Regions from separate parts of the Homo sapiens genome. Here region 2 is linked to region 1. Evidence: fine-mapped expression QTL. Tissue or cell type: whole blood. Region 1 holds a variant in brackets; the other region holds the start of a gene. All regions are shown on one strand. Distances are between the middles of the regions.

Evidence for each region. PIP is the estimated chance that this variant, and not a neighbour inherited with it, causes the effect.
Region 2: it holds the start of LINC01597, and the variant in region 1 is fine-mapped to the expression of LINC01597 in whole blood (TOPMed, PIP above 0.99).

Annotation. Positions count from the first base shown.
Region 1 is chr20:30,413,110-30,415,877 of GRCh38, forward strand. It overlaps the pseudogene FRG1BP. Among named protein-coding and RNA genes, the nearest start is that of FAM242A, 53 kb to the left of the region's middle. The variant C/T (reference allele first, on the strand shown) is at 1,580.
Region 2 is chr20:30,284,882-30,287,649 of GRCh38, forward strand. LINC01597 (long intergenic non-protein coding RNA 1597) reads right to left here and starts at 1,656. Exons shown (of 2, transcript NR_145432.2): 1 at 1,559-1,656. It overlaps LOC107985433 (putative uncharacterized protein LOC401522), which reads right to left. Exons shown (of 3, transcript NR_171672.1): 3 at 2,147-2,591.

The DNA of each region.
Region 1 (2,768 bases):
AGGGAAGGAAGGAGAGAGGGAAGGAAGAAAAGGAAGGAAAGGGAAGGAGGGAAGGCAGGAAGGAGGGAAGGAAGAAGGGAAGGAAGGAAAGAGGGAAGGATGGAAAGATGGAAGGAAGGAAGGCAGGAAGGAGGGAAGGAAGGAAAGAGGGAAGGAAAGAGGGAAGGAAGGAAAGATGGAAGGAAGGAAGGAAGGGAAGGAACTTGGATATGCACAAAAACAAAATTTAATACGGAAGTCTATCATCTGACCTAATTGGAAATGTACTATTTTCTACAACAATTTATACAGTCCAAAGATAAAAGGGTGCTGATTGGTATTTGTAACTCTCCAGCATATATTCTGAATCAATTTTAACATCTGCTGAAATCTACCAATTGTCATACCTTCACAAACTAAATCGATACTGAAGCTCAAACTTTGTTATACCTGAGATTTCACTAAATTTAAACATTGCATCCCCTAATCCTAGCAGAGTAACTGCATATAGAATAGAGGGCACATACTTATGCCTCACATTTGTTACCTTGACTAAATTTCCCGTAGTCATAGAAGTCTTTGTCCATAGGGGACCTGGATGCTCTGACCTAATGAGTAACAAATTGATATTAAATCATTTACACTTACACATTGACTTCACCAAATGTAACCTTACAGAACTCCCTCTCCTGTTTTTTTTTTAATTTGATTTATTTTTAATTTTTCATTTTTTAGAGATGGGGTCTTCCTTCATTACCCAGGCTGAATGAAGTGTGGTGGCACAATCGTAGTTCACTGCTGCCTTGAACTCCTGGGCTCAAGCAATCCTCCCATTTTAACCTTCCAAGTAGCTGGGTTTACAGGCATGCACCAACACAGCCAATTAAAAAAATTTATAGAAGTGGAGTCTTGCTATGTTGCCTAGGCTGGTCTCTAACTTCTGGCCTCAAGCAATCCTCCTGCCTCGGCCTCCCAAAGTGCTGGGATTACAGGTGTGAGTCACCGTGCCTAGCCTCCCCATCTTGATAAATTAGCAAATATGGTTCAACATAAATTACAACACGACTTCAAATAAATAAAACTTATTATATAAAACCAAATGAATTAGGGAAGGGGTGATAATCTTCATTGCTTCAACGTTTAGCAGTAGAATTTGGCCTGTTCTTAAACCTGCAAAGAATAAATGGTGTTTCACAGTGGATTGCTGTAATGTGACTGCAGTGCTCCCATTCATTAAGGCCCTTGTACCCAATACCTAATATTTTGGTTAATTTTTTTTATTTCAATAGGTTTTTGGGGAATATGATTTTTTTTTTTTTAATTTCAATAGGTTTTTGGGAAACAGGTGGTGTTTGCTTACAGGAATAAGTTCTTTAGTGGCGATTTCTGAGATTTGTGGTGCACCCATCACCCAAGCACTGTACATTGTACCCAATATGTACTGTTTTATCCCTCACTGCACCCACCCCACCACTCCCAGCCTTTCCCCGAGTCCCCGAAGACCATTGTATCATTCTTACACCTGTGCATCCTCACAGCTTAGCTCTCACTTATGAATGAGAACATACAATGTTTGGTTTTCCATTCCTAAGTTGCTTCA[C/T]TTGGAATAATGGTGTCCAGTTTCATCTGGGTTGCTGTGAATGCATTATTTCATTCCATCTTAAGAATGAGTAGTATTCCATGTGGTAAATATTTATACCACATTTTCTTTATCCACTTACTGATTGATGTGCATTTAGGCTGGTTTCAAATTCTTCCAATTGCATATTGTGCTGCTATAAACATGCGTGTGCAAGTATCTTTTTCATATAATGACATTTTCCTCTGAGTAGATACCCAGGAGTGGAATTACTGGATCAAATGATAGATCTGCTTTTAGTTCTTTGGAAATTTCCTCACTGTTTTCCATAGCTGTTGTACTAGCTTACATTCCCTCCAAAAAGTGTAAAAGTGTTCCCTTTTTACCACATCCATGCCAACATCTATTAATTTTTGATTTTTTGATTATGACCATTCTTGCAGGAGTGAAGGGGTATCATATTGTATTGTGGTTTTGATTTGCATTTCCCAGATAATTAGTTATGTTGAACATTTTTTCATGTGTTTGTTGGCCAGTTGCTTATCTTCTTTTGAGAATTGTCTGTTCATGTCCTTAGCCCACTTTTTGATGGGATGTTTTTCTTGCTGGTTTGTTTGAGTTCCTTGCAGATTCTGGGTATTAGTCCTTTAATCAGAAGTACAGATTGCGAAGATTTTCTCCCACTCTGTAGGTTATCTGTTTACTCTGCTGATTATTTCTCTTACTGCTCAGGAGCCTTTTAGTTTAATTAAGTCTCATCTATTTATCTTTGTTTTAGTTGCATTTGCTTTTTGGGTTATTGGTCATGAAGTCTTTGCCTAAGCCAATGTCTAGAAGGGTTTTTCCAATGTCGTCTTCTAGAATTTTTATGGTTTCAGGTATTAGATTTAAGTCCTTGATCCATCTTGAGTTGATTTTTGAATAGGGTGAGAAATGAGCATCCACTTTCATTCTTCTATGTGTGGCTTGCCATTTATCTCAGCACCATTTGTTGAATAGGGTATTCTTTCTCTGCTTTATGTTTTTGTTTGTTTTGTTGAAGATTAGATGACTGTAAGTATTTGGCTTTATTTCTGTGTTCTCTATTATGTTCCATTGATCTATATGGCTATTTTTATACCAGTGCCATGCTGTTTTGGTGACTATGGCCTTCTAGTATAGTTTGAAGTCGGCTTCTAGATTTGTTCTTTTTGCTTAGTCTTGCTTTGGC
Region 2 (2,768 bases), 130 kb before region 1:
GGAAAATCGAAAACACCTGGGACCCGAGGGGTGTGGGGGGGGCCTGTGACTGACCCAAGCCACGTTTTCGAATGCCTACCGGAGGAGCAAAGAGGTTTCTGCAAAATTCGCCCCAACCCCAACCCTCCAAGGCCCTGGCAGCCCTGACGCAACTTCGGCTGCACAGAGCCCCAGCCCCAGCCCCCAGCCCTAGACCAGTCCCTTTGTTTCCCTTACATTCGTTTCGGCCAGAAGATCAAGGGGTTCAGTCCACCCAGGAGCAGAGGAGAGGATGTCCCTCAAGAATGAGACAGGAAGTGCAGAGGAAATGCGACACCACCTGTCGTGGAAGACAAGGCCAGTCACGGTCGCCTAGCGCTCATTCTAGGTAATCCACCCACCCATGAGGGGAAACGTGGAGAAGACACCTGCCTGAGACACCTATGGAAGCCAAGTGTTCCCGGGCCATGAGACCTGCCCAATCAAGCAGAAACACATTTGGAGAGACAAACAATCACGACACGGGTCTCCAGGAAGTGTCTCCCTGACGGAGTGGGAAGTCATCTTAGTTGAAGGCATTTGGCCAGAGCGAGAGGCATCCAGGTCCCTGAGAAACAGGGGAGGCAGAGCAAGAGGGAGGACAGAGCAGAGGCCGGAGCCCAGGCAGGATACAGCACCTTGCCACCGTCACAGGCATAAGGGGTGGGGTTCCTAAAGGGTGGCTTGTGCAGGGAGGCCAGCGTTCCAGGGACAGGGATTGTTGCCATCTCTCATTCCTGGCTTCCTCTTGCTGACTGTATCGTGGTGTGGCTTCATTTCTCAGAGAAGAGCCGCGAAAAGACTCAAACATCTTCTCTGACGTGGGTCCGCTGATCTCCTGTGGGACAAAGAGCTCCTGTGGGGCTCTTGTCCTCATCTGCAGTGTGTTCCTCTTGATGCTAGAAAAGAGGACGCTCAGGATGGGGACGAGACAGCAATTGCTCCAAGACCGACGCATCTTCTCACGTGGGCCAGGCTTTCACGCAGCCAAAGCAGATCCGCGGGGGCGAAAACGATTGACAACCGGCCTCATGACCCAGGCAGAGACACAGAAAGAGGTTCAACAAAGACAGGCCGCCATGCAAGAGACAGCTCTGTGGTTCACAGGGCATATTCAGCCAAAGACACACAAGCACACGGGCACACACACACAAACCCACAGAGAGTGGGAAAGAAACACACAGAGACTGAGAGACAGAGAGAGAAGGGAGAATGGGAGACACACACACACACAAACAAAGGGTCATACAGCAGAGGCATTGAAACACACACCACCAGGCAACCCCTGAGGCTGCGGGGTTCTGCTGTCAACCAGAACGACCCTCGGGTGAAAGAGCAGCCCAGGGGCACGCAGGCCAACCGGTCCTCGAGATCACGGACGGCGGCACGACATTTGGGGAGACTCACTCCAACCAACACCGTCCGGGCAGGCCTGAGGCTGGGAGCCCCTGCTGCTTCCCCCGTCTCCGCCTGGGGGAGCCCACCACCTACCCACCCTCCATTCACCTCCCCTCCTTAAGGCTCACTAAGCTCTATTTACCTTTTGTAACTCCATCCCTCCGTAAGTACACAACTCTCCTAGCTGGTTTCCTAGAGGGCAGATACAGTGTTTCCAGTTGGCCCTCTGCAGATATCTATGAACAAGTCTCTCCCAGCCCCTACATATAAATATGTGTGTTCTAGACAGACGGGCCTAAGTCCCAATGTAAACACATCACAAGATAATTACACCTTATATGCATACAGATCTCTCTATAGAGTTATATTTGAAAGTGTCTATAACTCTAGAGAGAGATTGCAGCATGCACATATAGGACTGTAATTACTTATATGTATTTTTATAACTATGTAGTTATAAATAGATATGCCTATATATAGTGATAATAATATAGCAATATCTCCATAGCCATATATGGCTCTAAATGAATGCTCTAACTACTCTATTTCACAATCAATAAGTATATATCTTCTGATACATAATTCTAACAATATACGTTTTTATCTATATAGCTGTTCAGAGATATAAATCTGTCAGGATATCAAATGTACATAAAGCTGGATGGCTGTAAGAGAGTCGTATATTTTCCCATATATAAATCTGCTCCTATAACTACTGTATATGCACAAATACAATGGAAATAGTTATATTTCCCTCAAACATAAATCTGTAAATACAACCACAGCACATTTAGGTACGGTTAGACATAGAGCAATATTTCCTAGATATCAGTCTGTCAATAGAGCCACAGTGTCTCCAAACAGAGAGTTATAGAGGGAGTTATAAATAAACTCTCCAGATGTGAACGGATCAGTAGAACTAGATGTAAACATGACTCCAAGCCGTTCTTTCTTCTTCTTCTTCTTTGTAAGATATTCCTGAAGCAAGCCCAGTCATATAACAGGGTGCAAAGGTGTCTGGGTACTGGTATTTTTCCCCCCAAGGAGGGTCGGAAGTCGCTGGACTTTGGGAAACTGAGCAGGAGTGGGTAGGGGACAGTGCCCGCTCCCAACGCAATCCAGAAGCCCCTTCCGTCTGTCTCCTGGTGGCTGAGAGCTCGGGCAAGTGGAGAGGCCTAAGGGAGAAAAATGAAAAAGCAGAGTCTGGCTTGAGTCGTTTGGCCCTTCTGCCTAAAACCCTCTCAACAGGGAAGCCCCGACCAGGCGTCGGAGCGGAGAGAGCCCACGAGGCACAGAGGTTGGGAGAAAGGGTCTGCAGGCCGGGCTTCGGAGGCCTAGCGGAGTCGCCAGCC